Regions from separate parts of the Homo sapiens genome. Here region 2 is linked to region 1. The links come from fine-mapping of genetic effects on gene expression. A gene starts in region 1. The other region holds a variant in brackets. All regions are shown on one strand. Distances are from middle to middle.

Region 1 (4,400 bases):
AAAAAAAAAATTTTTTTTTCTATAGAGACAAGGTCTTGCTATGATGTCCAGGGTGGTCTTGAACTCCTGGGCTCAAGCAATCCTCCCATCTAAAAATCACTATCTGGAAAAATAACATCATCATGAGTCTTTTTTTTTTTTTGTGACGTAGTCTCATTCTGTCGCCCAGGCTGGAGTGCAGTGGTGTGATCTCAGTTCACCACAACCTCTGCCTCCCAGGTTCAAGCGATTCTCCTGCCTCAGCCTCCTGAATAACTGGGACTACAGGCAGGTGCCACCATGCCCAGCTAATTTTTGTATTTTTAGTAGAGACAGGGTTTCACCATGTTGGCCAGGCTGGTCTCAAACTCCTGACCGCAGGTGATCCACCCACCTCAGCCTCCCAAAGTGCTGGGATTACAGGCATGAGTCACTGCGCCCAGCCCATCATAAATCTTTTTTCATTTTTTTTTTTTGAGATGGAGTCTTGCTCTGTCACCCAGGCTGGAGTGCAGTGGCACGATCTCAGCTCACTGCAACCTCTGCCTCCCGGGTTCATGCCATTCTCCTGCCTCAGCCTCCCAAGTAGCTGGGACTGCAGGCACCCGCCACCACACCCGGCTAATTTTTTGTATTTTTAGTAGAGACAGGGTTTCACTGTGTTAGCCAGGATGGTCTCGATCTCCTGACCTCGTGATCCGCCCGCCTCAGCCTCCCAAAGTGCTGGGATTACAGGTGTGAGCCACCACGCCCGGCCCCATCATGAGTCTTGATAGGTTTTGTTCATAGCCAGATTTTTCTCTGACCCCATTGCTCTGCTTCAAAGTGAAGAGCAAAGTCTCAGAACTAAATATCCTGAAGCCTCTCTCCAGTTGGCTAAGGGCAAGAGCCTTTCATGTACTCACCATAACTGGGGGTGACTGTATAATAATAGACCACCTGATAATATTCATCCTCTCCCAGTCTTTCTTCATCCTCATATTCTTGTCCTATGGGGACAAGGACTAGAGGTCAAGGGACATCTGGAACACCTTACTAACAAAAGGACACCTGGAGATGACCTCAGCGCTCCCAGCTTTCTTGCTCTTTCTTTCTTTTCTCTCTCTCTCTCTCTCCTCCAATAGTCATACTCCTTTCTTGCCTGTGCACCTCTACACCCCTCTCAGTCTTCTGGGATCCATATCTGTAATGAGGCCTGTTACTCCGTGCCCTTTCAATCCAGGAACTCCTAAAACAGAAAACAGTCCCCTTCACATACTATAAACCCAAAGGGAGAACCAGACCTAAAAAAGGTAGGAAAAGTAGAGACCAGGAATTAAAAACGCCAAGTCTTCTATTTAGTATGCTCCAGATCTTACTGTATTTGTGAGACATCTTTTCTTATCAGTATCTCTTACAAATAACTAACATACACCCTTAGGCTTTGGATTTGAGCTTTAGTTCCACCTTCACTGCTAACAGAATAACCCTGAACAATCCACTTAACATCCGCTTTCTTAAAATGAGTCAGCTGGACTAAAATGACCCATCTCTGTTAGTTTTTCTTCCCTTTCAGAACTAAAAATATGTGGCTTTGATATGACTGGATCAAGAACTCCAGGCCTCCTGCTAAACACTTCCCTGAGCTCCTTGAATGCTTTCCCTTCAACTCCAAGCTAATGACACAAGAATCTAGAGGAAAAGGAAACAATGAGACACACCTGGTAGACTGGGGAACAAAGGAGGGAAGGAGCCAAGCTACTCTTGGGACCCTGTCCCTGAAGACAGCCAGTTTTCCACTACCCTAAAGGTCACCCCACTTCTGTGTCTTTACTAATAGCAGGTTTTTTTCTCCAATTCTCTGGGAAAGGAGATACCCTAACTACTAGTTTCAGACTGTGACACCTTCCAATAATCCCTCCTTCACCCTTACTTTAGCCCCTGTCATCTTGTTCAACTTCCGTGGTGATGGAGAACTGAGCTCAGTGTTGCTAGGGCCTCCTTGTGTCTGGAGCTCCATCCTCCTTGTTTGACAGGACTCTGCTTTTTTCCCCCTTTCCTGGCTCTGCCTTCCAGATCTCCATTCTGCCCTCAACACCGGACCCCAGCACGATGAGAAAACTCTATCGCTCCCCACTGAAATGTACCTCTCACCCACTCCTCATTTTTTTTCTCCCACCCCATTTATGGTAGAAGACCTGGCACAAAAGCTCAGAGAGAGGAGTGGACTTACCCAGGATAAGTGGCACAGCAAAGATGGCTACAAAGAGGACATCCATTCTGGATTCTGCACTATTGCTGTGAAAGTAAAAAAGGAAATTACAGAGTTTCCCACCAAACTTACCCCGCCTCCCCTCCTCCTCCAAAGCAGGGAAGGAGCTGCAGCAACTCTTCTCCTCCCAGGGGGCAGAACTCCCCGCCTACTGGCTGACTGACTAGATCTCCGGTTACTGCCGGTCCCCAGCCAGAGCTGCCCAGATTGAGAGGCAAAAGGGGGTTTTGATGCAAACATGTTTCTTAAGCTCCCCCTGCCCTAGATTAGATCCATTCAAGACTCCCACTGTCACTACCAAAATAAAAATAAAAAATAAGCCTACCAAGAAGTTTCCCCTCTCCCGGCTTTCCTTCCTTCCTCCAAGGCCTCATAAAAAGTTCACCCTCCCTCTCACTGTCTCTGACTTACCATCACCACCCAGAGTTGCCTTTCTCTCTGAGGCTTCATCAGTCTCTTTTCGTCACAGTGGAAATGTTCTGAGGAAGGGGTGAGCATTTTTCTAGACTGAAAAGAATCCCTTTCTTCTGTCTGTCTGGAGCTATAGAGAATAGGAACAATATTTACCCATCATTGTCTGACTTAAAGCACCTGCTGCATGGCTTCAGCTAAAAGTCTCTCAGCCATGGTCAGTTATTTCCTTTCTGGTAACACTGACCTCACCTCACCTCTTTGTTTTTTTTTTGAGACAGAATCTTGCTTTGTCACCCAGGTTGGAGTGCAGTGGCGCGATCTCGGCTCACTGCAACCTCTGCCTCCCGGGTTCCAGTGATTCTCCTGCCTCAGCCTCCCTGGTAGCTGGGACTACAGGCGCGTGCCACCATGCCCAGCTAAGTTTTGTATTTTTAGTAGAGACGGGGTTTCACCATGTTGGCCCAGGCTGGTCTCGAACTCCTGACCTCAGATGATCCACCTGTCTTGGCCTCCCAAAGTACTGGGATTACAGGCATGAGCCACCGTGCCCGGCCTCACCTCATCTCTTTCTCAACTTCCAGGATGCAGGTTGGAAGAAGGGAGAAAGCAGATAGTCTCTTTCCCTGCTACAGGTGCCACACCTTCCCTCCCACATTCAGTCACTTGGTATGTTCCCTTCATTCCGTCCTACAGGTGTAGAGTTTTTATCCTTTCCTCTGCTTTTATGTTTCCCATGTTCATTCAATTCAGAAACCCTTAGCAACATACGTGCTAGGCACAGTGTGCTAGGCCTAGTGTGATAGGCAATTGAGAGCTTATAGGCAAGGGAATAAGAAAAGACAGTTTTGCTTTGTTCTTAAGGGAAGTTAATAAGTATCTGCTCAACATCTACTATGAGTCAGGCACTATGCAAGTGTCTGTGGAAACACCCATGAACAAGATAGGTTTACAGCCTCCTGTCAATGGTCAGAAGATGCTGTGGTAACAGCTCAATGGAGAGATGAAGCTGGCCACAGTGGCTCACGCCTGTAATCCCAGTACTTTGGGAGGCTTAGGCGGACAGATCACCTGAGGTCAGGAGATCAGCCTGGCCAACATGGTGAAACCTTGTCTCTACTAAAAATACAAAAATTAGCTGGGCTTGGTGGCAGGCGCCAGTAATCCCAGCTACTAGGGAGGCTGAAGCAGGAGAATCACTTGAACCTGGGAGGCAGAGGTTGCAGTGAGCCGAGATAGCACCACTGTACTCCAGTCTAGGCAACAGAGTGAGACTCCATCTCAAAAAAAAAAGACATGAGAATTGTCTCATTCCTATCCACCTTACTCTGCCTGCTGGGCTCAGAAGCAGGACATACTGGAGTCTTGAACACAGGTCATGATAACGCTACCCTCTTAATTTTTTTTTTTTTTTTTTTGAGACGGAGTCTCACTCTGTTGCCCAGGCTGGAGTGCAGTGGCACGATCTCGGCTCACTGCAAGCTCCGCCTCCTGGGTTCACGCCATTCTCCTGCCTCAGCCTCCTGAGTAGCTGGGACTACAGGCGCCCGCCACCACGCCTGGCTAATTTTTTGTATTTTTAGTAGAAACGGGGTTTCATCGTGTTAGCCAGGATGGTCTCGATCTCCTGACCTCGTGATCTGCCTGCCTCGACCTCCCAAAGTGCTGGGATTACAGGCGTGAGCCACTGCGCCCAGCTACCCTCTTAGTCTCATTAGGGAATAATTTGCCTGGTGACTTTCCATGTAAATATTTTCTT
Region 2 (4,400 bases), 500 kb before region 1:
CCCAGCTACTTGGGAGGCTGAGGCAGGAGAATCGCTTGAACCCGGGAGGCGGAGGTTGCAGTGAGCCGAGATCATGCCATTGCACTCCATCCTGGACAACAAGAGTGAAACTCCATCTCAAAAAAAAAAAAAAAAAGTGCCGGAAACTCAAAGAACCTATGAAAGGCCAGAAAGTCGGTGAGGTTTGTTTATTGTGTAACCACAAACATCACCAAAACCACAGAGAGGACTGCTCAACCTATGATGCCACTGAGCAGACACAATATTTGACATAAACACTACAGTTTGAACAGGTGACACTGGGGACCAGATATTAGAATATCTGCTGCTGCTCCTGCTCCTGCTGGTGCTGCTGCTGCTGGGAGACATCTCTACTGCCATTCTCACCAAAAGGAGGATTTTACATACTTCTGGTTCCTCACTTACCCACTTGCAAAATGATGTTCTATACAGGTGTGCCTGACTGGCAAAGGCTAGGTCTCATGTCTGTGCCTTAACTGCACTGGATCCTTGAAAATGGAGCTTTGGCTTCAACTTGGAGAAGCAAAATTTATAACGTGGGAAATTCTCCAAACATGGGAATATTGTTCAAAAGATGCTAGGTGGCCATAAAAATAAATGAACACTGTATATACTACTGTGGAGTTATCAGAATTTAATTGCTAAAGTATAGTTTCTAAAAAGCTGAGAGCAAATATACAACGAACGCATCGAAGTTTAACTCATTAATTAATAAGGGATCAGTAAGATTAAAGTCAGTTCAAATAAGAATTTGAGGCCGGGCATGGTGGCTCATGCCTGTAATCCCAGCACTCTGGGAAGCCGAGGTGGGTGGATCACCTGAGGTCAGGAGTTCGAGACCGGCCTGGCCAACACGGTGAAACCCTGTATCTACTAAAAATGCAAAAATTAGCTGGGTGTGGTGGTGTGCATTTGTAATCTCAGCTACTGGGGAGGCTGAGGCAGGAGAATCGCTTAAATCCGGGAGGCGGAGGTTAGAGTGAGCTGAGATCGCACCACTGCACTCCAGCGTGGGCGATGAAGTAAGGCCGTGTCTCAAAAAAAAAAAAAAAAGAATTCGACTGACAGAGATCTACATTCTCTATTTCTCTATTCAGTGAAATCTACAATACAAAATTTATTTGCATTGCCATGTATAGGGATCATTTGCATAGTTATCAGTTTTTTACAACTTAACTCTAAAAAGAATCAAACAATTCCTGTAAAGGTCCACTAAATAATACCCAGCACATCACTGAAAGGACACCTGCTAATGTCTTTCGCCTGAATAATTTTTCTTAATAAAATGTTAAGTGATTGACTAAAACAAAAAAAATGCTAAGTGAAAAAAACAAGATAGAGAAAAATATGTGTAATATGTTAGTGTTCACTTAAGATGAAAGAATATTAATATATAGGCATATTTGCATATTTCTAAAAATAGGAAGATAAACCATAAATTTTTTAAATGATTACCAATTAAGGAAAAAAGGAAATCGTGTAAAACAGACAAAAGTAGAGGCTAGAGTTCTTTGAATATACCTCATTGTGATGATTTCACTTTGGATCCACATAAATGTTTTACATAATTATAAAATGAAATTACATAAGTGTAAAAAGCAAGCCCTAAAAGGAAGAAGTGAAATGAAACAAATAAACCTGTGTATGGAGGTGGAGCATAACCATACAGGGAACTATTCCAGGTGACTTCAAAACACAGTAATTGACTTACATCGTTAGCGACATTTGGCTTAATGGAGAAAAACCTGTCCCCCTCCACTTTAAAACCTCTAATTTGTTTTCATTAACAATCTTATTGGCGTAGGCTTGTTGTTGTTATTCTGCAATTTTACAGGATAAATTAAACAAGTACTTGAGTTGATATTTTAGAGAACCCAGATTTTTTAAGCATGTTTGAAAAGAAGTGCAGATATAAGATTGATGGGGTGAGTAAACCCTATAGTCTTGAATTTGAATTTGAAGTATCAGTGTCAGCTTGTGATTTATTTAATTTTTTTAAAAAAGATATTTCTTAGCTCTAGCTACTGAAAAGGCTTAGCAACAATGGTCAATCTGCTATCCCAAACACTGCTAGTTCCTAGATTATGGTATTTAAACATTGTTTCCACTAAAAGGAACCAGAGCTCCTTGGAGAAATGGCTGATTCCAGGTCTGGGGCAGGAATTGTTCAAGACAAACCTGCAATAGC[C/A]TGTCATATTAGAAAGAAAGGAAGCTTTTAAAGAGTACTAATATTATGCCAAATATACAAACTCTGTCTGCACCAAAGAGCCAGTTTGAATAAATTCCTACAGACCAAAAATGAGACAATATGAGTATCAATAAGGATAAAACTGGAATGGATTGAAACACATCAAATATGTTTAAATCCATGAATTCATAATGATATAAACATAACTCAATGGTTTCACAATATATGGAGCTTATTTAAATCTCAATTCAAACAAACTATTAAAAAATGTATAAGACAGTCCAGAAAATGTGAACATTGATAGGATGTCTGATGACATTAAGAAATTATTGTCTTAATTTCTTATGACAATAAAGTGGCTCACACCTGTAAACCCAGTACTTAGGGAGGCTGAGGTGGGCAGATTACCTATGGTCAGGAGTTCGAGACAAGCCTGGCCAATGTGGTGAAACCCCATCTCTACTAAAAATACAAAAATTAGCTGGGTGTGATGGCACATGCCTGTAATCCCAGCCACTTGGGAGGCTGAGGCAGGAGAATCGCTTGAACTCGGCAGGCAGAGATTGCAGTGAGCTGGGATCACACCACTGCACTCCAGCCTGGGCAAGTGAGTGAGACTCTGTCTCAGAAAAAAAAAAAAAAGAAAATTATTGTTCATTTATTTTAGATGTGATGATGGTATTGTGGTATTATATTTGTTTAATAGTCTCTGTCTTTTAAAGACACACACAGGGACATTTACGTATGAAATGACAGAATGTCTAGAATTTATTTAATATAATTCAGGTAGTGAGAGTGGGAATATAAATAAAATAAGATTGGCCATGTACTGATCATTGTTGAAACAAGACAATGGTTTCACGGCAGCTCATTTTACTACTATTTTTACTTTTACATGTGTTTTAAATTTTCCATAAGCAGTATCTTTTTAAAAAAAACTGTATGGCTACAAACACAAACATGTCTACTACAGCTGAGATGAATCAACATTATAATGATGTTACTTCTCCCTAAATTTATGCATATATTCAAATAAAAACTCTAATAGCCAGATGTGGGGGCTCATGCCTGTAATCCCAGCACTTCAGGAGGCCAAGGTGGGCAGATTGCTTGAGCCCAGGAGTTTGAGGCCAGCCTGGGCAACATGGTGAAACCCCTTATCTACAAAAAACAAAAAACAAAATCAGCCAGGCATGGTGGTGTGCACCTGTAGTCCCAGCCACTCCAGAGGCTGAGGCGGGAGGATCACTTGAGCCCAGGAGGTCAAGGCTGCAGTGAGCCATGATTGCATCACTGCACTCCAGCCTGGGTGACAGAATGAAACCCTGTCTCCAAAAGAAAAAAGCAAAAAACTCCAACAGAGTTTTTCAGGGAACTTGATAAACTGATTCAAAAAATTCATATAAAGAAGAGTTAACAAGTACAAAATACAAAGACAATGTTTAAAAAGAAGAACAAAGATAGGGTGGCCTAGATGACTTGCCTTACCATACGTGGAGACATATTACAAAGCTGTTTTAATTAAAACTGTGTGATACTGAAGTAGCAAAAGATAAAAAGAACAGCTTCATGAGCTCAGAAACTGACCTATCTATGTATGAGAATTTGGTGTACAATAGAGGTAGAATCAAAATTGGAAAACAAAGAAAATAAGCTCCCTACGTCATACCATACACAAAACTAAATTCCAGGTGAATTAAACACCTAAAAGCAGTAGCCATAGAAAAGATAAATAAAACACTCTCTGAAAGTATAAAAATAAGATGAGTGTATCTTTATTACATTTGGATGAGGAAAATTTTCTTATACAAAAACAGTATAGATTGATTATACGGAAAAGCTGAATAAAATGTTCTACCTCAACATAAAAAAATTTCATATAGAAAAACTCACTATAAACAAGACTAAAGGACAAGTGGAATTTCATAGGCTTATGCAAAGGAAGAAAAAATAAAATAAAAGACAAGTGGAAGACTAAGGGAGGATGTTTTTAAGGGTATATAACTGTCAAAGATTAGAAGCCAGAATATATTTTTAAAACACATACACCTTGGCCGGGCACGGTGGCTCACACCTGTAATCCCAGCACTTTGGGAGGCTGAGGCGGGTGGATCACGAGGTGAAGAGTTCAAGACCAGCCTGGCCAAGATGGTGAAACCCTGTCTCTACTAAAAATACAAAAATTAGCTGG

Which allele goes with the higher level. Alleles are on the strand shown, and positions count from the first base shown. SD is a standard deviation of normalised expression in the study named.
For the expression in hypothalamus of the gene that starts at base 2,265 in region 1, allele A in region 2 goes with a lower level than allele C (large effect, 1.2 SD a copy in GTEx).

What was found. PIP is the estimated chance that this variant, and not a neighbour inherited with it, causes the effect. A credible set is the group of variants that fine-mapping cannot tell apart.
Region 2: its variant is the best candidate, but not a certain one, in a credible set for the expression of C1orf54 in hypothalamus (GTEx, PIP 0.68).

Annotation. Positions count from the first base shown.
Region 1 is chr1:150,270,655-150,275,054 of GRCh38, reverse strand. It overlaps C1orf54 (chromosome 1 open reading frame 54), which reads right to left and starts at 2,265. Exons shown (of 6, transcript NM_024579.4): 1 at 2,192-2,265; 2 at 885-968. The coding sequence starts at 2,237. The region is part of intron 1 of LOC124904414; the gene reads left to right.
Region 2 is chr1:150,766,929-150,771,328 of GRCh38, reverse strand. No RefSeq gene overlaps it. Among named protein-coding and RNA genes, the nearest start is that of CTSS, 3.4 kb to the right of the region's middle. RefSeq lists a silencer at 221-340. The variant C/A (reference allele first, on the strand shown) is at 2,210.